Regions from separate parts of the Homo sapiens genome. Here regions 1, 2 and 3 are each linked to region 4. The links come from fine-mapping of genetic effects on gene expression. A gene starts in region 4. Each other region holds a variant in brackets. All regions are shown on one strand. Distances are from middle to middle.

Region 1 (7,697 bases), 190 kb before region 4:
ACAGAAGGTAAAGAAATAGCCAATCATCTATCGCCTCAGAGCACAGCGGGAGGGACAATGATCGGGATATAAACCCAGCATTCGAGCTGGCAACGGCTACCCCATTTGGGTCCCCTCCCTTTGTATGGGAGCTCTGTTTTCACTCTTAAATCTTGCAACTGCACACTGTTTTGGTCCATGTTTGTGTTACAGCTCGAGCTGAGCTTTTGCTCACCATCCACCACTGCTGTTTGCCGCCCTCGCATACCCGCCGCTGACTTCCACCCCTCCGGATCTGGCAGGGTGTCCGCTGTGCTCCCGATCCAGTGAGGCACCCATTGCCACTCCCGATCAGGCTAAAGGCTTGCCATTGTTCCTCCATGGCTAAGTGCCCAGGTTTGTCCTAATCGAGCTGAACCCTAGTCGCTGGGTTCCACAGTTCTCTGCCGTGACCCACGGCTTCTAATAGAGCTATAACACTCACTGCATGGCCCAAGATTCCATTCCTTGGAATCCATGAGGCCAAGAATCCCAGGTCAGAGAACAAGAGGCTTGCCGCTATCTTGGTAGCGGCCTGCCACCATCTTGAGAGCTCTGGGAGCAAGGACCCCCTGGTAACACTCCTAATGTGCATGTGGGTCCTTAGCTTGAGTTACTCCACATTGTTTTGTTCCCCTTACTGTGCACGTGTCAGGGGACAGAATTTTCCATTGCAGGCATGTCTAGACAAATCTCCTGTATAGCCGCTCTTATCTGTGAGGCTGTGGGCATGTCTCAGGCTAGCCCCACTGTGCAAGGTCTCTTATCTGTGCCTGCAGGCTGTTCTTTTGTCTGAAAGAACTCAACCCAGGACCCCCCTTAATTGCCTGCCTGATGGGTTTCTTCCTTCCTCCTCTCTCAATATGTCCAAAGACTTACACATAAACGTTGCTAGCAGTAGTATTCATAATTGCCAAAAATTAGAAACAATGTAAATGTCTACAAACTGGTGAATGAATAGACAAAATAAAGTATGCTCATATAATGGAATATTATTCAACAATAAAAATGATGTGATTCATGCTATGATTTTTGGTGAACTTCAAAATTGTTATGCTAAGTGGAAGAAAGCAGACACAGAGAATACATCTGATATGATTTTATTTATGTGAAAGGTCCAGAAAAAGCAAATAAATAGAGACAAAAAGTAGATGATGCTTGGCTTAATCAAGAGGGGGCAGAGATTAACAGTTGGGGTAATGGAAATATTCTAATATTCTAAATGGCAAAGGTTGCACACTTGGTAAACTTACTAAAAAATCTTTTTTTTTTTTTTTTGAGACAGGGTCTCACTTTGTCACCCAGGCTGGAGTGCAGTGGTGTAATCACAGCTCACTGCAGCCTTGACCTCCTGGGCTCAAGTGATCCTCCCACCTCAGGCTGTCAAGTAGCTGAGACCACAGGTGCATGTCACCCCAGGCTCAGCTAATTTTTTTATTATAAAAAATCTCTTAATTGTATACTTGGAATAAATTATATATGTAAAATGTGCTTCAATAAAGTAATGACTCTTCAAACAAACAAACAAACAAAAAACAGTAAAATGAGACCACACAGCTTTTGAAAACTAACCTACTTGAAAAAAAATGGTTTGGCAAGCACAGTGGCTCATGCTGTAATCTCAGCATTTTGGGAGGCCAAAGTGGGTGGATCACCTGAGGTCAGGAGTACAAAGCCAGCCTGGCCAACATGGTAAAACCCCAGTCTCTACAAAAAAAAAAAAAAAAAAAAAATTAGCCAGGAGTGGTGGCGGGCGCCTGTAATCCCAGCTACTCAGGAGGCTGAGGCAGGAGAATCCCTTGAACCCGGGATGTGGAGGTTGCAGTGAGCCAAGATCGCACCACTGCACTCAAGCCTGGGTGATAGAGTGAGACTCCATCTCAAAAAAATAAAATAAAATAAACATTTAAAAAATGGCTTATCATCTCACCAGTGAGTGTTGAGTGGGGATGGGGATGGGGTGGCTTACAGGGCCTGATGCCTTATGCAAAGATGTGTCTTCAAATGTAATTTATAATGTGTAATGCAAAGGACTGAGGGAAACTGGGCAAAATTCTTTTGACTATTGGGAATACTCAGAAGCGGGAGTGACAGAGCACAGACAACATGGATTAAAAGATGCTAAGAAGAGTGTTCCCATCTTGCCTGCTCTAAGGCAGAAGAGGATAAAGAGCAGCTTCCCCCGCAGCCCAAATCCCTGTGCACAGAGCCTGACCTGGCCAGCACAAGTCTCTGCTCTCCCCTCCAGCCTGGCAGAGAGCCAGACAGTGAATGTACACGGTGCATAAAACACTTGCCTTTGATGTTCTGAGGTTGTCACAGGGCGGGGGGTTGGGAGGGGCTGCGGGGAGGGCAGTATTCAGAAGAAAAGAAAAAAAAATCCCATTTTCTCAGGCAGAGAAAAATGGTCACATAACTTTGCAGTTAAAAGTTATTAGAAAAGTGGTGGTGAAGTGTGGTTACAGAAAATTAAATATTGATAAAAAGAGAAAAGTAGTTGTTGTGGGAAAAATTTTACTTCTTTGTACAAAAGAAGTCAATACCTGCTTGGATTTTAACACAGTTGCTTGCTTTAGGATTCCTTTTCCTGTCCTATTTCTTTCATGCAGTCTTGTGTGTTTGCTCCTTAAGGAAGGAAGCTCTGACCAGGCCTTGTGCTGCTGAGAGCTGGGCAACTGGACTCTAGTAGGCTTTCCCCACTCACCCCAAACCAGAGTAGCACTGGCTTAGCTTTAAGGAAACCATAAGTAAACGTTATAATTAAAGGTTAAGGTCTCCTTCCGTGGCTCGAAACCAGTGAGCAGAATTAGATGGCCTGTTCTTTAGCTCATCCCAGCCTGGGAGGCAGGAGGCAGCAGAGCAGTGGCTGAACAAACCAGAGGAATCCTCAATCCTGTAACTAGTGTGTGGGGCAAAGCCCTGGGATCTGTCTTTTCTGGTTTCCAGCACCACAAGCCATGCTATAAAAATGTGTTCAATGCAATTTGCATTCCGTCACACTACGCACTAAGGTCCAGTTAATATACTAAGAGTTGACATCCCACAGCAAACAGCCCTCATGCAGCAGGACGCTGGAAAGGACTTGTCAGTCTATAAAGATTTTGTTTAGGGCACTCCTATTTGGGATGGTGTAGACGGAACTGATGACTAATAAGAAAATACTACACAAAGAACACAGAGAAGGGTTGACATAAATAAGGACGAATCTCTCCAAGCTTCCATGCTAAGGGAACAAACTATTCAAGTTTGGCAGAAATAGATTTTGTCACTGACAGTGGACGGATCCTGATTCATAAGGTAATGTGTTCCCAACCCCAATTACCAGAACAAAAAAAGGAGTAAAACAATAATGCAGTCTTACTAGTTTTGAGGTTAGGGAGATAGGCCATTTGCTATGTCATTGAATAAGTGACTTAAAATTTTCTGAAACATCATCCCATGATGACAAAGACCACTCATTAAATCTGTGGCAAGGGAGATTAATTATTGGATGCCTATACGCCAGGTGCCTTACAAATGTTGCCTGGGCAACAGAAATGACCCTGTTATTAAACACACAGACATACACATGCAATTTTGATTATAAGAGCATAGTCTCACCATTTTTAAAAAACAGAAAATATATAAAAAGATTAAAAAATGGCCAATAATTCAGCCATTAAGAAGTTATTCTTTTATATAGGTATTTATAAGCATATATGTATTCACATTGTACTACATTCATGGATTCGTAAATTTGCTTTTGTCCTCAGTTGTAATATGAATATTTTGAATAAATATTGTTATACATATTTTGAGTAAATATTCCCCAAGAGCATTAGCTGACTGTGGCATCATCTTGTCATATAAATAATGTAATCATTCTCCTACTGTCAGACTTTTTTTTTCCAATGCTCCACTCTTTTAAACAGTTCTTTGCATGTAAAGGTATGTAAGTAGCACGCCATTCTGTTTTGCATCTCTTTGACTAATAGCAAAAATCATTAATTTGTTCTGTTATATTGGCCCTTTGTACTTTGGTGGTTTGTTCTGTGACTTCAGTAATGCTTCTTGTAATATTCACAAATAGTTCTAAGTCCATGGTCTCCTTTGCTTCCCCCTTGAATTCTTTACGAGCTCTGAAAGGCAGGAAAGCACTGTGTGCTCTGCTTTCCTT[C/A]CCTTAGTTGAAATTTTTCTTAGAATGAGAGTAGTCAGACCAAGGACCAGGGTTCTGAGTGCCCAGGTCTGGCCCAAACCCTTTCCCAAACACCTCCTGTGAGCTCTGACTAGTCCTGAATCTTTGAACCTGGTGGAGGCGGCCCCTGGCAGCAGGGAGTTTAGAGCATCTGTGTTTGCATCTCAGCAAAACTCTGGAACACAATTTAAGAAACCATTTGCATTAACAATCCATCACAACTCCTATTACTTTTGTTTTTCATTGCAATTCACATTTGCACTTGACCTACTATAAATGCAAAACCTCAGCTAAAACTTGTGAAAATTTTTTAAATTCCTGATAATTCAGAAGTATTTTGAACTGATACGTGCTTAAAAAGGCCTCAGGTTCGTGGAATGTATCGTTACCACTACAGGTTATGTGATAGTGGCCTAGTTTTTATTTAGCTGTAATTAAAAAGAAATCCTAACACACATGCACATTTGTCAAGGATGAATGGTTTTGGAAGCGAGTTCACCTGTGGTCCCAAACGTCCCCTTCCTGCCCACTGGCTCTCTTACAGTGCTTTGTTTGGGATCCTTCTTGTCATGTTGCAATTTGATCTCTTCAATCGCAGGGTCTCCGTCTCATCCACCTCCTGCCACGAGACAGAAACGAGGGCTGTGCACAAAACAAGCATTTCAACCATGTTTCTTGTGGGGAATAGTTACCTTTCACTTTAGTAGACTGATATTTCAGGTATACTTTTGCTGCAGAAAGCATTTGTTCTGTAATCACTTAAAGTATTACCAAAGGATTATTCATACTCAAAATGGGTGTCTGAATGAATTCATGTGAGGATTAAGGAGTGGGTTGTTTTGAGATCTGGAAAGTAGCAATACCATTTTTCAGGTTGAGAAACCAGAGAAGTGCCTGTGAGGAACTGTTTCTTCCTCTCTGATTTTTGCACAGAAAAGATGCTAATTTGAGGGCTGTGTGCATGGGTGGGTGGGAGAATTCATCAGTGAGGAAAAGGCTTCTCTGGATGACCTAAATTCCTCCTTAGAGACTCCATGGCAAGAAATGGTAGGAAACCAGCAACAACATGAATGAAACTGGAGGTCATTATGTGAAATAAGCCACATACAGGAAGACAAATGTTGCACATTCTCACTCATGTGGAAGATAAAAAAGAAATGATCTAACAGAGGTAGAGAGTAGAATAGTGGTTACCAAAGGCTGGAAAGGGTGGTGGGGAGGTGGGATAAAGAGGGGATGGTTAATGGGTACAAAAATACAGTTAGAATGAATAGGACCTAGTGTTCAGTAGCACAGTACAGTGACCATAGTTAACAATAATTTATTGTATATTTCAAAATAACCAGAAGAGTAGTATTGAAATATTCCTAGCACAAAGAAATAAATGAGGCAATGGATATCCCAATTACACAGATTATAGTGTATGCTTGTATCGAAATAACAGGTATTTAATAAATATGTATAATTATTATATATCCATAAAAATTAAAAATTAAAATAGAAACTGAAAACATCAAGTAGACCATATTATATTTGATCTATCCAAGAGAATGGGATGGAAGGAAAAGCCCGGACATGAATTTGAATGTTAAAGGTAGACTTCAGAAAGCAACATCTTATGGGTTGAGGTTCTAAAAGGGACAGTGGCCTTAGGATAGTCGAGAAGTCTTAAAATCAAATTCCAAGAACCTAAAGTAGAAAGCAGAGTATTTAATAGTGGCTAAAGAGGAAGTTCGTTCTTGGATAAAATAATAAAAGGCCAGGTTTTCTAGGGAAATGAAGGCATGCAACCAAACAAGAATAAACATAATATAGAATCCAAGAGGAGAATAGTGCAAGGGAGTTAAAGCCCAGAATGAAATGAAACTGAAGAGGAAACGTCAAAAGAGACTGGTAGGTTCAAAGGAAGATAATAAACAGGGAATGCAAGGGAAGGGCTCAGTGCTGCAATGGATCGGATGATGTTAAAAATCCCCTAGGGTTCCTAAGCTCCATAAGGCAGAACCTGTATCATCGTTACCTTTGTACACCCTGCAGCCAGCACAGCAAGTGACACAGGTAAGACATCCCATCAAACTTACTTAAACCAAGTTAACAGAGGAAGAAGTCAATTCTTTAACTCATGCTTGTCTTTTCTGTAGGGATAAAATATTTTCACAATGGAAAACGCGCAATCAACAGCATAAATGAAGAAACTGAAATGACTACACTTAATGACAAAATTAAAAGGGAAAATTTTTAGTATAAGAAAGTACTTGCTAATGATAGATGCAGAAGGCCAATAAGGGGGAGGGTCCTCAGAGAATCTCCAACCAGCTTGTGCACTGGGAGAACTGGGTGGAGCCACGGGAAGTTCCAGCCTTGGGCAGGAGGGAAGAGCCTGAGCTCTTCAGCTCACATGTGTGGTGGCCTGGAACTTATCTGTGAGGTGGGGGCCTGTTAGCAGGATTCCCCCCTTGCTTTGCTGAGTTTTTTTTTCCTTTTTGCCCAATGAATTCCATTCCCCACACACTTCAATGTGTCCATGTGTCTACATTTTCCTGGTCCTGACACAAGAACCCCGATTTAGCCGACCTAAGGAGCAAAATTCTGCAACACTAAGAACTCAGATGGCCTTAAAGTTCATACAGGTGTCTTAAGAGGTAATAAGTGCTATTATCAAACTATTAATAAAATTTCCCTCCTTTCCCAGAATTCGTGTAAACATTTTGGATTAATAACATACCACTGCATCAACTTTTTTGTCTCTTATTACGGGACTATCGCATCTGACTAAACTGTAAAACTGAAAAAATATATATTCCTTACTCCTTTTGTTCCTAAAAATTATGTAAAATTTCACTAAACACCTTTCTTGCCTCAAGCTATTTTGTATACTGCTTAAAAACAATGACAAAATAATTAAAATTACAAGTGTTTTCTTCCTTGTACAGCATTCTAAATCCAAGGTGCTAATGTTTCTTGAAATGTCCATTAACCATTATCCCAATATTCTAAGATAAAGCAGGTATTTTATTACAATGGAAACGAAAGTACTAGATCTCTTACAGAATTTGTGAAGACACAACAACAAAATACTGATCAACTCCTACTCAATCAGGGCTTGGGGTGTCAAGATGTGTGTGAAGGCAGCATGTAAAATAAAGTATCAGAGTTGGGAAAAACATAAGCAAATGAACAGTATCTTAGATCTTTGTGGGAAAAAAGATATCAAAGAAAAAGCAAACTATGGGAGTCAATGTTGAGAAAGACAAGAGAACTTTTATAATTATGAACTTTATTTTTATTTACTATGCCAACATTTTCAGGAGAGACTTTACATCTGCTTTTTAGAATTCATTTTACAGGCAAATTCTAATATACAGTTTGTACTCTAAACTGACTTAAAATCAATGGGAAAAACAATACTGCAGATATTATTTTTGCTCTTTGTTAGTAATGACTTAGAGACCTTACATTCTCGGGTATTATTTTGTTAAGTAAACGCTTTACCAAGGAGAAAGTG
Region 2 (7,697 bases), 40 kb before region 4:
CATCACTAAAGTCTTCACTTAAATCATTCTTATCAGAAGATGACAAAGACGACAAGGAAATGTCATCCACATCATCACTCAGGTATCTCATTTTAGCATCATGTTTCATGGTCTGGTTGTTTTTTGTTCTATAACTTTCATTTTCAATCAGTTCTTGGTCCTTATTAGCAGCTCTGTCCTTAGCCAAAACTGTAGCATCTTCCTCTACACATGTGTCAGCAGGTGAATTTTTATTTCCATCAACTGTCATAGTCCCAGAAAATGGAGATCGGCTAGATTTCAGTAGAGAGGGATGAACCATTCTATAACCTAAAGTAGAAGTTACACCTGGGCCATTTGGTAAAGCCAACTTCTTTCCACCAGCAGCATAAGGCCTATTAAATCCATACCCCAAATGTTCATTCCCATTGAGTACTTCTGGCTGCCGGGAATTTCTTGTTAGCATACTTGACCGTAGAGGCACTCTAATGGATAGCTGTTGGTTCTGATAAGGCTTTGTAAGATCCACAGCTCTATTAAAGGAATGTGATCTGGTTATAGATGAAGGTGGAAGGAATGAATTCTGAATGGAATGTGAAAAACTTTGTGACCTTACCATTTTTTCACAATTAATAGATTTACTACTGTCTGGGGATTGAGCTAAGCTTTCTCCAGAACTGCTTCTGGTGGCACAGGAGTTCGCTCTAGGCCTTTGCATGCTACCAGCTGATCGGTTTCCATAAAATCCATTCAACTGTGATTTTGGAGTATTGATCGAAGAATATGAAGTCCTTCCTAATAATGTGCCTTTGGTGAATTTACCCAAATTAGATGGTCCAGAAAAAGACTTTTGGTTTAACTCCTCTGTAGATGACACAAACATAGTGGATGGCTTTGCTAACTTTGATGTGAATAAAGAAACACTTTTCAAACCTCCCTTTATCCCATTTTTATCAAACATTCCTTGAGTAGGAACACGTTTTTCAGGATCAATTATTTTATCATGTGAATTTTGAGTATTGTTAGGCTCTTCGACACCTTGTGCACAAAGCTGATATTTATTTGCTTTCCTCCAATTAAATGAATGAGATGATGGACAATCAGAGCCATTATTTTTGATGTAACTTTTGACATTACTATTCTTGGAAGTTCCTAATAAATTAACAGGTGTCCCATTTGGCATTGGCTGCAATGTACTTCTTACAGATTTTGTTCCATACTTTGGCAACTTGGAACCCAAAAATGTCTTGATTTGTGTTTTTTCTTCCATGAGCTATAAGGTGCATTTGTTCTTAAAAGTTGAAAGAATCTGTGAAGAGAAAAAAGAAGTACATTAAACATTCCTAAATAAGGATAATTACATGAATTATTACATAATATGATACTTACACTTTTATACGCAGAAAAACCCAAAAGCTACTCATGATTCCTACAGAACTCCTGGCAAATACCGAATGCACTAATTAAATTAATAACTTTATGTTGGAAGAAAATAAAGAACATTTTTATAAACTTTTATAAATGTATGCTATGAATGACAGCAAAATCTAGAAATAAAATTAAACCACCAAATTTGACTATGTAAAAAATAATACTTACAGAGTACTTCTTCCAATTTCCAATCCAAATAATTTTTTCATTTTGGGTAAAAGTCTCTCCTTTAAAAATAAGAACATATGGAAAGCCACAGCCAGTGCACTCAGGCAAGAGAATGAAATAAAAGGCATTCAGATTGGAAAAGAAGAAGTCAAACTATCTCTGTTTGCCAATGATATGATTATATATCTAGAAAATCCTACGGACTCCTCCAAAAGATTCCAAGATTTGATAAATCCAGTAAAGTCACAGGTTGCAAAATCAAAGTACACAAATCAGTAGCATACCAACAATGACTAAGCTGAGAATCAAGAACTCAATCCCTTTGACCATAGCTGCAAAAAAATAAAATAAAATACCTAGGTATACTTAACCAAGGAAGTAAAAGATCTCTACAAGGAGAAGTGCAAAACACTTCTGAAAGAAATCACAGACAATGCAAACGAATGGAAATACATCCCACACTCATGCATTAGAGGAATCCATATCATGAAAATGACCATGCTGCCCAAAGCAGTCTACAGATTCAATGCAATTTGTATCGAAATACCAACATCATTTTTCCCAGAATTAGACAAAACAATCCTAAAATTCATATGGAACCAAAAAACAATCTTAAACAAAAAACCAAATCTGGAGGCATCACATTACTCAACTTCAAATTATACTACAAGGCTACTATAGTAACAAAAACAGCATGGTACTGGTATAAAAGTACATACATAGAGCAAAGGAACAGAGTAGAGAACCCAGAAATAAAGCCAAATACAATCAACTGACCTTTGACAAAGCATACATAAATGAAAATTGGGAAAAGAACGCCTTATTCAATAAATGTTGCCAGGAAAACTGGATAGCCACATGTAGAAGAATGAAATTGGATCCCTATCTCTTACCATATACAAAAATCAACCAAGATGGATTTAAGACTTAAATCCAAGGCATGAAACCATAAAAATGCTAGAAGAAAACCTAGGAAAAACTCTTCTGGATATTGGTCTAGGCAAAGAATTTACGACTAAGACACAAAAAGCAAATGCAACAAAAAAATAAATGAGACCTAATTAAACTAAAAAGCTTCTGCTCAGCAAAAAATAATCAGAGTAAACAGACAACCCACAGAATGGGAGAAAATACTTGCAAACTATGCATCTAACAAAAGATTAGTATCCAGAATCTATAAGGAACTCCAACTAATCTGCAAGGAAAAAAATAATCCCATCAAAAAGTGGGCAAATAACATCAACAAACATTTTTCAAAAGAAGGTATACAATGACCAAGAAACATGAAAAAAAAATGCTCAACATCACTAATCATCAGGGACGTGCAAATTAAAACCACAATGAGATATCACCTTATCCCAGCCAGAATGGCTATTATTAAAAAGTCAAAAAACAATAGATATTGGCATAGATGTGATGAAAAGGGAACATTTAGGTACTGCTGGTGGTAATGTAAATTAGTACTACCTCTATGGGAAACAGTATGTAGATTTCTCAAAGAACTAAATCTACCATTTGATCCAGCAATCTCACTACTGGGTATCTACCCAAAGGAAAACTGTATCAAAAAAAAAAAAAACCTGCATATGTATGTTTATCACAGCAAAATTCACAATTGCCAGATGTGGAACCAACCTAAGTACCCATCAACCAATGAGTGAATTAAAAAAATACACCATGGAATACTACTCAGCCATAAAAAAGAATGAAATAATATCTTTTGAAGCAACGTGGATGGAGATGGAGGCCATTATTCTGAAGTAATTCAGGAATGAAAAACCAAATACCACATGTTCTTACTTGTAATTAAGAGCTAAGTTATGGGTATGCAAAGGCATACAGAGAGGAATAATGGACACTGGAGACTCAGAAAGGGGGATGATGGGAGAGGGATGAGAGATTTTTTAAAAACTACACAATGTAGTAGGGTACAATGTATACTATTCGGGTGGCACGTGCACTAAAATCTCAGACTTCACCACTACACAATTCATTCATGCAGCCAAAAATCACCTGTTCCCTTAAAGCCAGTGAAATAAAAGGTAATTAAAGAACATATTATTTTTT[T/A]AAAAAAATACATGGTTTTATAAAAGCTAGAAGACATTCGAAAAACCTTAATTACTAAAGTCATGAGAATTTTTTTTTATTTTTAAAACAACTGATTCCAAGTCAACCCTGGCCTAAGAAGTAGAGTTCCTATAATACATGTTATTATGTCAAAAGTAAATATTTAGAAAATCGTACAAATGTTCAAGTATAGAGTGAAAAAAGACTAAAGAACGTCCTGTTACCAACAACTAAGAGATATATATATATATTTGTGTGTATGTGGTTTTTTTCAGCAGAAAACCTATCAGTTACACACTGTAATACAAAAAACTATTTAAACTAAGAACTTATAAAGTTTAAAAAGTAGCGGACAGAAAAAAATTCTGTATGGTACAGTATGACTGGCAGCCTGATTACTGCCTGGAAGCAGTAGTGAGAAAGAAATGTGAACTAAAAAACTTGAAAATTTTAAGAAATACCTCTAGTTTGGATAGAAAAAATTTGATTTGCCATGCCCTACAAAAGTTGAGGAAAAATATCCCGAGCACAGAGGCTTCAAAACCTAGGCAGAGGCATCACCAGGATCTGCCAACTTCTAAGTCCCTATACTGAGTTGAGGGAAGGATCTGAAGCCCATAGACATGTACTGTACCCTCAGCAGTATGAAATGAGACTGGTATAGGACATTTAACGCAATCTAAGGAGATGGGAAAGCATAGGGCCACAGAAGGGCAAAAGCGAAGTCTTGACCTAGGTATCCAAATTAAGCCTGAGCAAGACAAAAAGAAATGCCCATACAATCATATAAACAGTTTCTTGTAACACAGAACAACCTAATAAGAACATGCATCTAATGAAACAAAAGCCCAAAGATGAAAAGACAAAACAGGTAAATTGAAAAGAAAGGCTTCAGCGTTAAGGAAACCAATTAAGAAGAACAATGAATTTGAAAGAAAAAAAAAAAAAAGCAAGGAAAAGAAGCAAAGACTTAAACAAATGGCAAGGAGAAAAATCTTAAGGTAACAAGAGTATATCGAGGAGGCTAAGGTGGGTTGATCACTTGAGACCAGGAGTGTGAGACCAGCCTGGACAACATGGCAAAACCTCATCTCTACAAAAAAAATACAAGAATTAGCCAGGCATGGTGGCACACACCTGTTGTCCCAGCTACTCAGAAGGCTAAAGCGGGAAGATCAACTGAGCCCACGAGGTTGAGGCTGCAGTGAGCCGTGATCAAGCCACTGCGCTCCAGCCTGGCTGAAAGAGTGAGACCCTGTTTCAAAAAAAAAAAAGTATCGAGGAGAAAAAAAAGACAAAGATATTGAATTAGAAAGAAAATGTAGGACAAAGGCTGAACAGAAAGATAATTAGTATCCCTGAAGTAGAATAACTAATTAAATGGAAGAGAAAAGGCAGGAGGACATAATAGAAAATATCCCTAAAATAAAGGTGAAAAAAAATCTATGGAGGGAAAGAAAAAATATATCAAATCACAGATGCAAATACGTATCCTATTTAAGTTAATGAAATACCAAGGATAAAGAAATAATTCTCCAGAAATACAAGTAGAGAAAAAAAATCACCTTTAAAAAATTTTTTAAACTTGGAATATACAAAGGAAATAACTGGATAACCTTCCAAAGAAATGCTGGAGCCTCTGGGGATAACTTAATCCTGTAGGAATCACATTAATTTTACCATTAAAAATTTATTCTAAATTCACCACTTCCATTCCACAATTCTAGTTCTTATGCTCATCATTTCTTCCTGTACTACTACCAAGGATTCCTACATTTGTCAAGATTCCAACCTTACTTCTATTCAAACTGTCAGCAGTTATCTTCTTAAAGCAAAGATCTGGATCACGTCATTCTACTGATTAAAAACCATCTGTGAGACTAGGAACAACAAAATAAAACCCAAAACTCATTGTACAGGGAGCAAGCTACTCTATTTGATTCTACCTTATCCTTGTTATATACTTAAGCCAAGATACGTTATTTGTCATTGCCCAAAATCCATCCTATATTTTCTAACTTCTTTGCCTTTGCTAAAGACCCCTTGGAAGATTCTATCCTCAAAGTCCAAAATCACCACATCCACCAACATTTCCAGTTAAAATTAATCTTACATCATTCTCTATTCTCTTCACAGCAATAATATAGCTGAGTTTGTCTTCTAATTGTGTGCATGTCTATTTGACCCACAGGAAAGTAAACCTGCTGAGAACATAAACTAAGTCTTATATACTGTACTTTGAGGCCAGCTACAGGACTACAAATTTAATAGATCCTCAACTTTTAAGTAAATTCATAATCTCTTAATGTAAATTAATTCAACAGTAAGGAAAGACTAAAAAAGAACTTTGTTTTGTGGACCTGTGATTGACTGGTAATAGCTCCCTTGGGCAATATGTTGAAAAGGATTCCGAGGCCGGGCACAGTGGCTCACACCTGTAATCTCAACAGTTTGGGAAGCTGAGGCGAAAGGATCGCTTGAGCTCAGGAGTTGAAGGCCATACTGAGCAACATAGTGAGACCTCATCTCTACTAAAAATTTAACATTAAAATTTTTAAAAAACAAAAAGGATGCTGAGGTCAAATCTAGCTTCTGAAGTAGTGACATGATCAAGCAGCAATGTTTGCCAGGAGCAGAGCAAGGGACAGTGGCAATATCCATGCCAGACAACTGTCTTCCTCATTTTTGATAATGGTCTTTTCCACAAAACATACTACCATACCCACAACCACTTTCGGTATAAACATAAGAAAACTGGTATTGATATTACATATTAGGGTCATTTTGCAAATCAATAAATAATACATGTTAAAGATTAAAGAGCCTGTGAGTCAGAAAGGCTTTAACATTTCCCCGCCTGTCACAAGTAGACCACGGAAAGAAAATTATATTCTTTCCTTTCTCTATGCCTCTATTTTCCTGCCTAAGATGAGGGTAATACATGTTATCTCCCAAGAGCATCTTCAGTATTAATAACTTAGAGGCACAAGATGAGCCCACAAGAGAGACACACTGTTACTGGTGTTTGTGGTTCCACCAGTTTGTGGGGGAAAAGAATAATGTTAGAACCTGAATGTGCTATTCTCTATGAAGAATAACGATTTCTAAATGTACAAATAATTGCAACACAAATCACATCAATCATCTTGAACTTTGGTCTTAAGATAAACTAGTCTGACAGCTCCACTATGAAGTTTACGTTATGAATATTATCACTTCATTCGTTGATGAGCTACCATCTGTCTTTAAAAGTTCATGAAATTTTCCCTTATATTTGCTTATAATTTTGAAATAAAATAAAATAGACATTGTGAGTCTGCTTCATTTTGGTAGCCATGCTGTCTTTGATGCACTTTACCTAAACTGTAATCTGTTAGGTGTCTAAAAAATCCATTCATTAACAATTTGAAAAAATATATGTTGCCTACATCATCTAATGATATAATCTCTGAGACACTTTAATACCATCTGTGAGCTTTAATTTAGTGGTGAACTAAGACTAATATCTGGACCAGTGCTTGAAAATGTCAGTTTTTTTTTAGTTTCTGCAAGAATAATTTTTTAAAGTATAGCAAATTTACAGTATTGGTATTTAATATTTAAAAATTTTTTTCAGGCCGGGCGTGGTGACTCACGCCTATAATCCCAGCACTCTGGGCAGCTGAAGCATGTAGATCACCTGAGGTCAGGAGTTCGAGACCAGCCTGGCCAATATGGTGAGACCCTGTCTCTGCCACAAATACAAAAATTAGCCAGGCATGGTGGCACACACCTGTAATCTGAGCTACTCGGGAGGCTGAGGCACAAGAATCACTTGAACTCGGGAGGCAGAGGTTGCAGTGAGCCGAGATCATACCACTGCACTACAGCCTGGACAAAAGAGCCAGACTCCATCTCAAAAAAAAAAAAACAAAAAAAAATTCAAAAATACTTATAAATGCCTTTTTTTAAAACTGTAAATCAAGCTTCTCGCTTTTAAAAGAAATCCACAATTGGATAAGGGAAAAGCAGCAGCAAATATTATTAAGCACTTACATGATAGGTACCATGCT
Region 3 (7,697 bases), 130 kb before region 4:
AATTTTGAAAAATCCAGCATGACTACATAGTCATACCTTATATACTTTATCACCATCTTCTGGTTCTGGACTGGATGGCAATGACAGTTGAATATCATGCAATGAACCACTTCCATCATGCTGTCAGAAAGAAGGGAAGAAAAACACTAGATTAATATAGTAATTGTGGACATTCAGTTCAACCTGAATTTACCCAGACCAAATGCTAGCATGGTGAAGACCAAATGCTAGCATGGTGAAGAACAAATGGGAGACAAAATTTTAGAAATCTTCATTTCCCCTATATATACTGTTAGAAGGAAATGTGGAAGAAGAAAAAAGGGAGCTACGGCAAGAATAATCTGTGGAAGTAAATAACGGATACTATATAAGCGGCTGAAATACAGAACCATTAAGCATTATGAGAAATTTCCTAAAGAATTTTAAGACTGTTTCACCTAGGAAAAGTGTAAAACAAAGGTCAACTGAATCTGCTTTGGTTTAGACATGTTTTGAGTACCAAGGAGCCATAAACAATAATATTAAGTAACCCAGTAAGGCTTAGCAGCAAAAATAACTGAATTAAAAATACTAGCTACATGAGGATATATATCACATAACTCCATTTATATGAAGTCTGAGAAAAGGCAAAACTAATCTATGGTGTTAGAAATCAGAAGAATGATGGTAGACTAAAGGGAAGGGGGTTACTGACTAAGAAGGAACATTAGGGAACCTAGTAGGAAGCTGGAAATGTTCTATGTCCTGAGTGTACGGTAGTTAAACATACATATGAAAAGCTTGAGCTGTACACTTAAGATTGGTACACCTTAACCACTTTACTGGATGTATCTCATGCCTCAAAAAAGGCTGAAATAAAGATTTTTGTTCCAAAACATTATAAATAAAATAGGATGACAATACTAAGTTCCACCCTTTGCTGAACTGGTTTAGTACTAAGAAACCACATGCTCAATGGTTCAGAAAGACAGCCTCAAGAAAAATGAACCAGTGAAGAATATAACTGGATGACGTGCTACCTTGATCAGGACTGAGCCCCTGACTAAGGCAGCACAACTGAGGTTCAACACCTTATTTGTTCATGATTCCTGGCTGCCTCAGTAAACCCAGTGACTGAACCAGCAACCTTCAAGGAACATAACATTGCAATCTTCCTCAGATATATCTTTTCTGGTTCTCCCATACCATGGATAATGTCTACAATAGGGGAGGTGAGCATGCAGGTTATTTTCTTCTTAATTTATTGTACTGTATACCCACTGACACAGAATCTCTAGGGATGGGGCCCAGAATTTCTAAATGTGTATTTAGGGCAGTTCAAAAGGTAATGCTGATTGACAGTCAAGAGAGTAAGTGTTTGCCAAATTTCCAGCATAGATAAATTACTTTTCTATGGTGGTGTCAAATGGACATTAAGACTTTGATCTAAGAACATAGGCAACATTCTAATGAATAGCAATATTCTCGGAACACATTTTTAAAAATTAAGAAATAAAGAAAGTAAAGTGAGTTTTACAGGACTCATCTCAGTAAAAAGTTCATCTCCGTTATTACTGCCTAGACATATAAAAGCATCGCCAGTCCTACCTACAAGTATATTTGAGAAGAGAGACAGACTGTAAAATTTGAATTATTTCCAAATATCTAAATGTCTTCTTCCCAACTGCAATGCAGGAACCCCAAGGAATATGAGACAACACAAGCACATACTGCTTTGCATTAAATGCAGGTGCACTTGTGGGAAGTGTACAGCAGAATAGAAAAAATAAAACAACAGCATTAAGGATAGAGGAAAAAAGAGAAGTCCAGCAAAACAGAAAATACCAGAGGTCACAAAATACCAGGAACTGAGTAAAGTAGCTCCATAAAGCTGTTGTAAATTCATCGGTTCATCCCTGAGCAGCACTTGCTTGGATCTGATCCTAAACAGCATAGCAAAGACTTTGAAAAATAACCTAAGATCACTTCCCAGGTCCCAGACTAGCCTCTGGAAGATGTATACTCAGAACAGATCTGGAAAGCATGGCAAAAGCTTTGAAAACAGAGCTGGCATTAAAACCACAATCAAGACAGCTAGCTGTACCTTGTAGCCTAAACTCAACCACATTGTTTGCCTGTTTAAAAACAAAATAAAATAAAGATTTAAAGAAGATCAGGAATCTCATTATACAACGTTCAAATATCTAATATATAATCCAAAATTACTCAACATCTAAACAGAGGAGAAAATGTCAACTCACAAAGGAAAAGACAATCAAAAAACACCAACACCAAAATGACACAGAAGGTAGAACTGGAAGAGATTTTAACAGAGCTGTTATTAAAATTCTCCAAAAGAATAAACTCTTGAAGGGACTACAAAGAGAAAATCTCAGGGGGAAAAAAAAAAAACAGAATATAAAAAGTAGAAACAAATGGAGATTTTAGACCTGAAAAGAGTCAAAAACCAAAATTTTAAAATGCACTATTGATGGGCTAAATACTAGCATTTCAGATTATACAATAAACTTAAAGAGTGATCAACAAAAATTATCCAATCTGAATGATGAAGAGCAACAAGATTGGTCAAAAAAAATTGACAGAGCCTGCTCAGGAACATATGCGGACAGTAATAAAAGAGCTAACACTCCTGTCATTGAAGTCACAGAAGGATAGGGGTGGGCAGAAAAAATATTTCAAGAAATAATGGATAAACACACCCCGAATTTGGTGAAAGACACAAACCTACAGATTTGAGAAACCAAATTTAAAAGAACTAAAAATACACCAAACATATGCTCTCTGAATATAAGAGAATTTAACTAGAAACTAATAACAGAAAGATAATCTCCATACACTTGAAAAGTAGACAACCTTCTAAATCATCCTTGGGTCAAAGAAGAAGTCTCAAGAAAAACAAGAAAATATTGTGAATTGAAGGAAAATAACAGACACCACATACCAAAATTTGTGGAATGCAACTAAAGCAGAGTGATAAGGGAAAATTATAGAATGAAATACTTTTATTAAAACAAAGGTGTCAAATCAATAACTGGAGCAAAATAAATGTACAACAAGCAGAAAGAAGAAAATAATCAAGAGCAGAAATTAATGAAACTGAAAATTAAAAAACACAAACAAATCAATGAAACTAAAAACACTTTCTTTGAAAATTGCTAGACATCTAGCAAAACTGCCAAAATGCAAAAAAGAAAGCACAAATCAAAACATTATCAGGAATGAAAGCAGAAATATCATTACAGACATCTCAAATGCTAAGAGTAAATAAAGCAATAATAATATGAATGACTCTACACACACAAATTTGACAACTTATGTGAAGTGGCAAAATTCCTCAAAAGCAACAAACTCTTGAAACTCACCTAAGATGAAATAGATAAGCTGTGTAAACATATGACTACTAATAAAAATGAATTCATGGTTTAAAGCCTCTCACTAAAAAAAAAAAAATCTGAGGCCAGATGTTTTACTGGCAAATTGTTCCAAAATTTAAGAGAATAACATCAATTCTATACAACCACTTAGAGAAAAATCAAATTAAATTAATAAAATCAATTAATGAGGCCATTAATTGCACTTCCCTGATACTAAAACAAAGACAGTATAAGAAGACTACAGATCAATATTCTTCATGTATAAGGATGCAGAAGTCTTTTAAAAAATCTCACACATGTAATCCCAGCACTTTGGGAGGCCAAGACGGGGGGGATCACCTGAGGTCAGGAGTTTGAGATGAGCCTGGCCAACATGGCGAAACCCCATTTCTACTAAAAATATGAAAAAAAAAAAAAAAAAA[T/AT]CAGCCGGGCATGGTGGCGCATGCCCATAGTCCCAGCTACTCAGGAGGCCAAGGCAGGAGAATTGCTTGAACCTGGGAGGCAGAGGTTGCAGTGAACCAAGACTGCACCCCCGCACTCCAGCCTGGGCAACAGAGTGAGACTCTGTCTCAAAAAAAAAAAAAAAAAAAATCGAAGAATCAAAACCAACAATATGTAAAAAGGGAAATACACCATGAGCAACTGAGGTTGATCCCACCAATGCAAAGCTGGTTCAATAGTCAGAAAGCAATGTAATTCACCAAATTGAGAAATAAAAGGTCTGCACAATTATCTCAATAGACTACACAGATAAATTTCCTGGCAAAATTCAATATCCAATCAGGATTTAAAAAAAACTCAGAAAGCTAGGAATAAAAGAACTTGCTCAACCTGATAAAGTTCATCCAAAAAACCCACCAGGCATGGTGGCTCATGCCTGTAACCCCAGTACTTTGGGTGGCCAAGAGGGGCAGGTCGCTTGAGCCCAAGAGTTCAAGACCATTCTGGGCAGCATGCTAAAACTCTGTCTCTACCAAAACTATAAAAAATTAGCCAGGTGTGGTGGGATGCACCTGTAGTCCCAGCTAATTGGGAGAATGAGGTGGGAGAATCACCTGAGCCTGGGAAGTCAAGGCTGTGGTCAGTCATGACTGTGCCACTGCACTCCAGCCTGGGTAACAGAAGGAGATCCTGTCTCTGATTCCCCCCCAAAACCAAACCAAAACAAAACAAAACATCCTACCAGTAACATCATATTTAATGGTGAAACATGGAATATTCTACCCCAAGACCAGGAACAAGGCACTCCTATTCAATATCATAGTGGAGTTTCTATCCAGTGCAATAAGGCAAGAAAAAGAAATAAAAGGCGAACGAATAGGAAAGAAAAAAATAAAATAACCTCATTTAGACACAGAATGTATGGTGTAGAAAGTCCCTTAAGTATCTATAATAAAAGTACTAGAAATTTGGGAGGCTGAGGCAGGCAGACCACATGAGGTCAGGAATTCAAGAACACCCTGGCCATCATGGCAAAACTCCATCTCTACTAAAAATACAAAAATTAACCAAGCGTGGTGGCACATGCCTGTAATTCCAGCTACTCAGGAGGCTGACGCAGGAGAATCGCTTGAATCCAGGAAGCAGGGGTTGCAGTGAGCTGAGATCGTGCCACTGCATTCCAGTCTGGGCAACACAGCGAGAACGTCTCAAAGACAAAAACAAAAACTACTAGAACTAGTACATGAATTTAGCAAAATCACAGGATACAAGGTCAATATACAAAAATCAACTGTGTATGGCAAACAACTGAAAATTGAATTTAAAAAAAACTACCATTTATGATAAAGCAAAATCCAAAAGACAAGGGAAAAAAATCCAAAATAACAAAAGAGAAATACTTAGGTACAAATCCAACAAAACACAGACTCTGTATATTAAATATATAGGTTGATTTCTTTCACATATATGTATATACATATATGTGTATGTATATATGTGTATATGTGAAGGAATATATGTGTGTGTATATGTGAAAGAAATCAGAGAGAACTAAATAAATGGAGATATCCTCTGTTCATGAATGGAAAGATTAAATATTGTTGAGATATCAATTCTCTTCCAAACTCAACTGGAGATTCAGTATTCTCCCTATCAAAATCCCAGCAGAATTTATTTTTTGTAGAAATAGAAACGCTGCTTCTAAAATTTACATGAAAAGGCAAAAGAACTAAAATAGTCAAACAATTCTGAAAAGAGAAAGTTGGAAGAGTCACACTACTTAAAGACTTACTATAAAGCTCCAGTAATCAAGAGAAAGTGATAATAGCAAAAAGATAAACATACATCAATGGAAAGAAAAGAGTCCAGAAACAGACCCACACATTTATGGTCAAAGGCATTTCTGACAAAATTACAAAGGCAAAACACTACAGAAACAATATTCTTTCCAACCAATGGTGCTAGAACAACTGAACATACACGTGATAAAAATAATCTTGGCCCATAACTCATACCACATACAAAAACTCTTCAAACAGATTATACACCTAAGTTTCAAACTTAAAACTATAAAACTTATCCACTTAAACATAGAAAATCTTTGCAATCTTGGGTTGAGCAAAGATTTCTTAGACCAAAACATGATCTATGGAAAAAATGGTGGCAAAAAAATGATAAATTTTACTTCAAGAGCAGAACTTTTGCTCTCACACCTGTAATCCCAGCCTTTTGGGAGGCCGAAGCAGGCGGATCACCTGAGGTCAGGAGTTCTGAGACCAGCCTGGCCAACATGGTAAAACCCCATCTCTACGGAAAAAAATACAAAAAATTAGCTGGGCGTGGTGGCATTCGCCTGTAATCCCAGCTACTCCAGAGGCTGAGACAGGAGAATCACTTGAACCAGGGAAGTGGAAGTTGCAGTGAGCCTAGATCACACCACTGCACTCTAGCCTGGGCAACAGAGCAAGACTCTGTCTCCAAAAACAAAAACAAAAACAAACAAACAAAATTTTATATATTTATATATAATATAATTATATATAAATATATATAATTTATATAATAACTAAAATTAAAAATAATATAATTATATATAATTATATATAATATATAAATATATAATTATATATAATATATAAATATATAATTATATATAATATATAAATATAAATTTATATATAATAATATACATTATATATAATTATACATATATTATATATAAATATATATGATTGCAGATACTTTCTTCCAGTCCATGTCTTTTATATATATATTATATATTTTATAATATGTATTTATATATAAATATAATTTTAAATATATTTTTTAAAATATATATTTAAATAAATATATATTTAAAATATATATTTAAAATAAATATATATATTATATATAATATATAATATATTATATATAATATATTATATATAACATATTATATATAATATATAATATATAATATATTATATATAATATATTTTATATAATATATAATATATAATATATTTATATATAATATGTAATATATATATAAAAGAAGACATGGACTGGAAGAAAATATCTGCAATCATTCAAGTAAATACCGAGCATAATGCGTAACTCATAGAAAGCCTTTTTAAAGTGTCAGCTAATTTTAAAACAATAGTAAGAAAATAATGAGAATGTGAAGGTGCAGGGTTATTACCTCACAATTGTACATAGTTGCCCAAAAAGCTAGTCCCATTTTTAAAAATATCCATTTGTTTCATCACTTACATACCTAATAAAGGAGCTATATCTAAAATATATAAAGAACTCTCAAAAATCAGTAAGAAAAGACATTTGTGTTAATAGGCAAAAAAGACACTTCACCAAAAAAGACATATAAATGGCAAACAGTCATATGAAAATATGCTCAATATCATTAATCTTTACACAAATGCAAATTAAATCAACAATGAGATACCACTAAACACCTATTCAGTGGCTTTTATAATACACTGATAATACCAAGTGCCAGCAAGAATGCAGAACAATAGTTACATTCTTACATTGCTAGTGGCAATACAAAATGATATAGTCACCAAGGAAAACAGTTTGGTAGTTTCTTAAAAAGTTAAGTTTACACTTACCATACAACCCAGCAATCCTACTCCCAAGTATTTACCCGAGAGAAATAAAAACACATGCTCACATGAAAATCTGTAAACAAATGTTCACAGCAGTTTTATTTGTAACTGCAAAAAAAGTAGAAAGCAACATAAATACCCTTCAGCTGGTAAATGAATAAGCAAACTGGTAGCATTAAAATAGAACACTAACTCTGCAATATACAGAAACGAATTCCTAATACACGGTACAGCATAAATGAATATTTCAAGTTGCATTATGTTAAGTAAAAAA
Region 4 (7,697 bases):
GTCTATTATGGACTATGATGTTAAACTGCAAGGAACCTTATCCTCATTTTTAAAAAACAAACTTTTAAAAGCAAAAACCTATAAAGTATGATAGAAATGGTCAACCAAACTCTACTGGAGTCTGTAAATCAATATCTTTTAGAAGTAAATCTAGTAATATTTTTCAGAATTAACAAAACCTTCATACCCTCTGACTTTGTAATACTGCTCCTGGGCCTTTAGCCCAAAGGGAAGAAGCAAAATGATAAACAGCTATATACTAACGGCATTATCTGCAAAATAGTAAACAATCTAGATGTCCAATTATTAAGAAATGACATTGTAACACTGTATAATCATCTAAAGGTATAAAAACTATAGCAAAAATAAAACATCAAATATGAAAGCAAATATTAAGCATTATGTGTATGCTTTATCATATAAAACCACTGATATGACAAGAAATAAGAAGAAAAATTAAGTTTGTTTTGATTTTTAAAATTTCTTTGACCATTGTTTGTAAGATAAAAAGCCTTTTGGAATTGGTCAGGCCCACACCACTAAGTACACATTTCAACTTTTTAGAGACAGCCACAATCATCAATTTTTTCCCCCAAAATCCTATCACATAGGAGTAAGATAGGCTCCTCTCACAGACAAGCCACACAAGTAATTTTAGCCATGCTATTAGCCAGCTGCAACCTTCTTATATTAAAATCTCATTGTACCATCAAAACTTAACTGTATGTGAGATGTCCATATGGTGATCAGAAGCCACTTGTTATGGGGCATCTGGAGAGAGCGCCCCAAGCACTGAAGTTAAAACTATCTGGCTGAGAGGAATAGTGAAGGTTAGGTTTCTCCCATATCCCCAAATGAATTATCATGTTTCTCAGCCACAAGGGTTCTAAGTCCCTAGGAGTGGCAGCCATGTATTCAAAGAGGGAGAAAGTGCAAGCAGATTTGCACTCCCTCTGAAAAACTGGCAGCTCCTTCATTTCACCCCAAAGCACCATGGAGTAGTGAAAAACACACAATGATGAGGTCAGGAGATATGAGATGTAGGTGAGCCTAAGCAATCTCAAACAAGTTGTCTTTTTAGGCTGAGTTGTTTAACCGTAAAATTTTTAAAGTTGAACCAAATAATCTGTTAATTCTTTCAAGTTCAATATTCTATTGACCCTTTTTTCAGAACACATCCAAGTCGCTCACAACTCCCATTCAAATTGTAAAACAATTAAGATTTAGAATTAGGAGACTGGGGGCAAAAGTGAAATACACAGATGGTCAAAAGACCTGGACTGTAATCCCCGCCATCCCTTTCTACCTGCGTGACTTTGCGCCTCAAAATAAAGTTGTAGGACCAATGAAGCAGCAATCTTTATTGGTCATGCCCTTTTTATTCCTGTATCATAAAATGGATTTTTTTTAACATAACTGGGGTTTCATTCCTAACCAGCCTACAATCCCAGCACTTTGGGAGGCCGAGGTGGGCGGATCACGAGGTCAGGAGTTTGAGACCAGTCTGGCCAACATACTGAAACCCGTCTCTACTAAAAAAAAATTAGCCAGGTGTGGTGGTGTGTGCCTATAATTCCAGCTACTCAGGAGGCTGAGGCAAGAGAATCGCATGAACCCAGGAAGCAGAAGTTGCAGTGAGCCGAGATGAGGCCATTGCACTCCAGCCCAGGCCACAGTGCAAGACTCTGTCTCAAAAAACACAAAAGAAACCCCAAAACCTGGTGGAGACAGACACATAAACAAATCATTAACTACCAGTTGACAAATACTAACTGGAGAGTGTACGAATCAGTTAAGACAAGAGGGATGAAATGTCTAGACAAGCCTCAGAAGTGCTACTTTCGTAAGGTCTTCAAGGGCAAGTTGTTTACTAGGTAGAGAATTCTCAACAAAGAACACTGAAAAACCACAGAGGAAGATGTCATCTTCAGAGAACTGCAACAGTCTTATATAGAGAGGGCAGGCATAATGGTAGAAGATGACACTAGAATGGAGACAAATACCGCTAATCATGAAGGACTTTGAATTTTATCGATATAGACTATGGAGAGTCACTGAAGGACTTGTAAATATGGATTCAAAGTCCCTTCCTCCAAAATAGTCAAAGGAGTTGAGTCAAAGCAACAAAAAATGCAGGTCTGAATGTGGAAAGGTAGAATTTTTACAGAATTCTTAATAGAGACTTTCGGCTTGCTTTCAGGATGGCTTCTAGTGCTTTCTTAACTATGGCTTATGCTGAAGTACGACAGTATGAATTATGGCTAAAGGGTTCAACAAAGTGTGCATTTTTAACCTGAAGATTATTTGAAGCCAATGTTGTTTAGAACACAAACGAAAACAAAAAATAACAGTAACAAGCTTTCATAAATTAAGAGAAACAGTAATAAAGTCCAAGAGGAAGAAGACTGATTTCAGGCAAACACTCAGGAATATTTACATTTTTATCACATATGGATGACGGATAAGACATGTTTTGAACCCATCTTTTGCAGGAGAGCATCTTAAGTTCCTTTTGGTTAAAGAGCAGCTGCCATCTCTAAAGTCTCTAGTCTAAAAGATGATGCTTTAAAAAAAACAACTGGCCAAATGAATAGGTTCCGTCATATTTTAATGCTCAGGAGAAAAGGAATGCTTTTCATATGGCTATTTTAAAAAGCTTAAAGCTCAATTTCTCTCTTACAGGAGTGAGCTACCAACACTCTAATCTGAGACCAGAGTCCCTGCGTCAGTCATTTCCACTCCGCTAAGGCCTTGTCTGGGAGCAGCCAGCCTCATTGGTCGGGGAGCCCACACAGATGAATATGCAATTACTGAAATGGAAACAAGCTTCGCCACCAAGGACCACCACAAAGGAGTCCCTTCATTCCTCCTTTTACTTTATCAAGAAAGTAGGTGCATTATTTAAAAATGTATGAAAATACATGTCTAAAGACAAGAGAGAAGATCTGAACCTACGGCAACGGTGTGCCCCACCAAAGTTTCACCTCAGGATGTGTTTTAGGGTGTGTCTTTCATTTAGCCCAGTAATTGAAAGAAAAAAAAAATCGAACTCATTCGGGGAGCCCCGGTACTTTCCCTATCCACCCTCACACGCAACCAGGCTCCGAAATCAGAGTGCCTCAGCCTCGCCCTGATTTCTCCTGAAAGGCGGCGGCGCCCGCGGCCCGAGGCCCCGCGCTGTCACAGCCGCAGGGAGGGCGCCCTCCGGCCTCCCGGGTCCGCGCCCGCCCCGCGTCCGGCGGCTCGCGAGGGGCTAGAGAGGCTCACCCTGGAGGCCGGGTACGGGAGGGCGACACCGCCTCAGCCCGGGAGTTCGGGCCTCCGCCCCGCCCCGGACTGCGTGCCTGGTCTTGGGCTGCCCCCGGCGCCCGCCGCGACCCCGGCCCCGGCTCTGGCCCTGAGCCCGGATCTCACCGTGCGGAGGTCGCGCTGCCTCCTCGGCCGCGGCCCAGCTGCAGGCCGCCCTGCGACCTGCGGGCCCGAGGACGGAAGGTGAGACGAAGGGCCGCCCGTCACATCCCCGCCAGCCCCGCCGCCCGAGCCGCAGCAACCAGCATCGCGTCCGCGGCCTGAGGGAGCGCCGGACTCCAAAGCCGCCGCGCCCCCTCCCTCGGCCGGCGCCCGCCCGGACTCCGCCCTCCAGGGCCGGCGCACCGCGCACGCGCAGTCCCGCCCCGCCGCGGGCCCGTGCGCAGGCGCGAGCCTCACGGGGCTACGGGGACCGCCCCCACCGCCTGATCCGGCCTCAGCCCACCTCTGGCCCCGCCCCGCCCTCACGCCAGGCTTTCCCAAGCTCCGCCTCCGCTTCGGGCCCCGCCCCCTCCACTGACCTTGCCTGGCCGCCTCCTGACTCAGGTTTTTGCTGGGCCCACGCAGTGACGCCAGTCTTGCGGCTGACCTCACCTCTAGCCGTCCCCTGGACTACATTTGCTGCTTGAGTGCGGTCAAACCTGACAGCTCCTCCTCCTGGATGTGAAAAGTGAGGAGTGGTCTGAGCATTGGGCATGACTGAACCACGCACCTGCCTACCGCATCAAAACACAGGATCTTGCTAAAGCTGAGGGGAAGGGGCACCCCAAGTGCTGATCTGGTTTTCCCTTTTTTTTTTTTTTTTTGAAACAGAGTCTCGCCCTGTCACCCAGGTTGGAGTTCGGTGGCGCTATCACAGCTCACTTGCAGCCTCCTGGGCTTAAGCGATCCTCTCGCCTCAGGCGTGTATCACCAAGCCTCCGAAATAATTACAACTAAGACCACACTAGTCAAAGTAAACTATCACAAGTTGACCCAAATACCCGGCTAATTTTTATTTTTTCTTTTTAGAGTTGGGGGAAGTGGTCTTACAGGCTAGTCTCAAACTCCTGGGCTCAAGCAATCCTCCCACCTTGGCCTCCCAAAGTGTTGGGATTACAGGCGTGAGCCACAGCTCCTGGCCAATGTGGTTTCTTTGCCAGAAACCAGGTCTTTCTTCCCTTTGGGGCTTCCATCCCCCAGAGGCCATCTCTTCCCCTCTTGTTTTTCCTCGACGCGGCCAGTCCTGCTGCTGAGAGTCCTCAGCCTGGAAGGCTTCCGGGCCTGGCCGGCTGTTTAAAGCTCTGGAGTTGCCCTTACCTGGTTGTAGACTTGCAGTTCTCTGAAATCCTCGTCGGCCCCAACAGCTCGGTTGTAATAACATTTCAGGAGAACTGCTTGAAAAATATCCAGTTCTTTCCTGTCTCCAGATCAATGATACTCAAATGGAAAAAGCAGACGGAATGCCTGATTTGTATAACCACACTTCATTTAATAATACACTTTCATATTTAGAAAATAATGTCTTTTAAATATCAATCCCTAAGATATTTAATGTATTGGACAATAATGTGTGCTTAAAATATTGACAAAGACTAGGTCTAAATGCTGTGCAATCTCTCTTTGGATTAAGTGAGATTAGAAAAGCAAACACCAGGCCGGAGGCGATGGCTCAAGCCTGTAACCCCAGCACTTTGGGAGGCCAAGGTGGGAGGATCACAAGGTCAGGAGTTCAAGACCAGGCTGGCCAATATGGTGAAATCCCGTCTCTACTAAAAATACCAACAAATTAGCCGGGCGTGGTGGCGCATTCCTGTAATCCCAGCTACTTAGGAGGCTGACGCAGGAGAATTGCTTGAACCTGGGAGGTGGAGGTTGCGGTGAGATGAGATCATGCCACTGCACTCCAGCCTGGGCGGCAGAGTGAGACTCCATCTCAAAAATAAAATAAAATAAAATAAAATGCCCAGGCCAGTTGTGGTGGCTCACGACTGTAACCTCAACACTTTGAGAGGCTGAGGCGGGAGGATCACTTGAGCCTAGGAGTTCAAGATCAGCCTGGGCAACATAGAGACCTAGTCTATTAAAAAAAAAAGAAATTAACCAGGCTTAGTGGCATATGCCTGTAGTTCCAGCTATTCAGAAGGCTGAGGCAGTAAGATTACTTAAGCCCAGGAGGTTGAGACTACAGTGAGCTGTGATCATGTCACTGCACTCCAGCCTGAGTGACAGAGCAAGACCCTGTCTCCAAAAAAAAAAAAAAAAAAAAAGAAGGCTAGGAAAAAACTTTCCCATAATGCTAATACATGTACATACTTAGCAGAATCACAATAGCATTTTAGTGTATTTTCCTAATTTTATAAGCATCCTTGATACGTTTTATTTGCTTTCAGTTAATTTTCCTGGGTCTTTTCTTTTTTTTTTGAGATGGAATCTTGCTCTGTCACCCACACTGGAGTGCAGTGGTGAGATCTGGGCTCACTGCAGCCTCCACCTCCCAGGTTCTGCGATTCTCCTGCCTCAGCCTTCCAAATAGCTGGGATTACAGGCATGTGCCACCACGCCGAGCTAATTTTTGTATTTTTAATAGAGACAGGATTTCACCATGTTGGCCAGGCTGGCCTCAAACTCTTGACCTCAAGTGATCCGCCCGCTTCGGCCTCTGCTGGGATTACAGGTGTGAGCTACCGTGCCCGGCCTGCCCTTCCTCCATCTTCAAAACCTGCAAGAGTAGTTTGAGTCCTTCCCACATTGCATCACTCTGACCTCCTCTTCTGTCTCAGTCTTCCACTTTTAAGGACACATGATTATGTTGGGTCCAACTGGATGCTCTAGAATAAGAACCTTATTTTAAGGCCAGTTGATTAACAGCCTTAATTCCATCTGCAACCTAAATTCTCCTTTTTTGGCATCCTCTTGATGTAAGAGAGAGACATTCTTTCAGGGGAAGTTTTAGGATTCCATGACAAACAGCACAATGAAACAGTTGATCCAGAGCCCCAGTAGGAGATGATTCTGGAGACCATCCAAAAACAGACAAGTTGGGTGCAGTCCCACACACCTGTAATTCCAGCTACTTGTGAGGTTGAGGCTGGAGGATTGCCTGAGGCCAGGAGTTCAAGCCCCACCTGGGCAACATAGCAAGACCCTGTCTCTAAGAAAAAAAAAAATACAACAGACAAGAATCTCTGATGAAATCTCCTGGCTAGGCATGGTGGCTCAAGCAAGAGCTTTGGGTGGCCAAGGCAGGAGGATAACTTGAGGCCAGGAGTGTGACCAGCCTGGGCAACATGGTGAGAACCCCCCATCTCTACAAAAATAAAAAATAATAAAAGTTAGCTGGATGTAGTGGTGCACACTTGTAGTTCTAGCTACTCAGGAGGCTGAGGTGGAAGAATTGCTTGAACTCAGGAGTTTGAGGCTGCAGTGAGCTATGATTGCACCACTGCACTCCAGCCTGGGCAGCAGTGAGATCCCATCTGTAAATAAATAAGATTAAAAGAGAAATCTCCCCCTTTCATCTCACAAATATTTACTGAGCATCCACAGGCACTGTTCTGGATTAAGTCATGAACAAGGACAGGAGTCAATGGGATTGATTTTCTAGAAGAAATCACCAGTTCTTCACAGAAGGCAGTCTGATGATGGGAACTCTCGGCTCCCACAATCACAGAAAGTTTTCCTTGTTGGCCCTAATTTCGAAGACTTTGCATGCCTTGATGCCTTCTGGATCTAGAATCCAGCAACAAGGAGCATCTTTACCAGTAAAAGACAGAGTATCCACAAACTGGCCTCCTGGTGAAGATGTAGAAAGCCTGCTTCTCAGCTGTGAAGATGACAAACGGGAACAAAGTAGAATGAATTCCTTCTTTTCATTCCCTAAATTGATTGGCGAGGCCCAGAAAGATGAAAAATAATGTGTTAGTCAGGGTTCTCTAGAGGGACCGAACTAATAGGATAGATGTATATATGAAAGGTTGTTTATTATGGAGTATTGACTCACACGATTGCAAGGTGAAGTCTCACAATAGGCCATCTGCAAGATGAGAAGCAAGGAAGCCAGTCCGAGTCCCAAAGCCTCAAAAGTAGGGAAGGCGACAGTGCAGCCTTCAGTCTGTGGCCAAAGGTCCAAGAGCCCCTGGCAAATCACTGGTGTAAGTCCAAGAGTCCAAAAGCTGAAGAACTTGGAGTCTGATGTTTGAGGGCAGGAAGCATGCAGCATGGGAGAAAGATGAAGACCAGAAGACTCAGCAAGTCTAGTCCTTCCGTCTTCTCCTGCCTGCCTTATTCTAGCCGTGCTGGCAGCTGATTAGATGGTGCCCACCCGAATTGAGGGTGGGTTTGCCTCTCCCAGCCCACTGACTCAAATGTTAATCTCCTTTGACAACACCCTCCCAGACACACCCGGG

Alleles and levels. Alleles are on the strand shown, and positions count from the first base shown. SD is a standard deviation of normalised expression in the study named. Not every link is listed here.
In carriers of allele T in region 3, the expression in B cells of the gene that starts at base 3,634 in region 4 tends to be lower than with AT alone (moderate effect, 0.45 SD a copy in Fairfax 2012).

What was found. PIP is the estimated chance that this variant, and not a neighbour inherited with it, causes the effect.
Region 1: its variant is fine-mapped to the expression of CCSER2 in whole blood (INTERVAL, PIP above 0.99).
Region 2: its variant is fine-mapped to the expression of CCSER2 in whole blood (INTERVAL, PIP above 0.99).
Region 3: its variant is fine-mapped to the expression of CCSER2 in B cells (Fairfax 2012, PIP 0.95).

Annotation. Positions count from the first base shown.
Region 1 is chr10:84,518,273-84,525,969 of GRCh38, reverse strand. It overlaps CCSER2 (coiled-coil serine rich protein 2), which reads right to left. Exons shown (of 10, transcript NM_001284240.2): 10 at 7,453-7,697. Among named protein-coding and RNA genes, the nearest start is that of CCSER2, 190 kb to the right of the region's middle. RefSeq lists enhancers at 1-347, 348-849. The variant C/A (reference allele first, on the strand shown) is at 4,175.
Region 2 is chr10:84,364,605-84,372,301 of GRCh38, reverse strand. It overlaps CCSER2 (coiled-coil serine rich protein 2), which reads right to left. Exons shown (of 10, transcript NM_001284240.2): 2 at 1-1,288. The coding sequence starts at 1,249. Among named protein-coding and RNA genes, the nearest start is that of CCSER2, 40 kb to the right of the region's middle. The variant T/A (reference allele first, on the strand shown) is at 3,646.
Region 3 is chr10:84,456,356-84,464,052 of GRCh38, reverse strand. CCSER2 (coiled-coil serine rich protein 2) reads right to left here. Exons shown (of 10, transcript NM_001284240.2): 7 at 37-120. Among named protein-coding and RNA genes, the nearest start is that of CCSER2, 130 kb to the right of the region's middle. The variant T/AT (reference allele first, on the strand shown) is at 3,797.
Region 4 is chr10:84,324,526-84,332,222 of GRCh38, reverse strand. CCSER2 (coiled-coil serine rich protein 2) reads right to left here and starts at 3,634. Exons shown (of 10, transcript NM_001284240.2): 1 at 3,415-3,634. RefSeq lists enhancers at 1,614-1,693, 2,741-3,090 and a silencer at 3,141-3,870.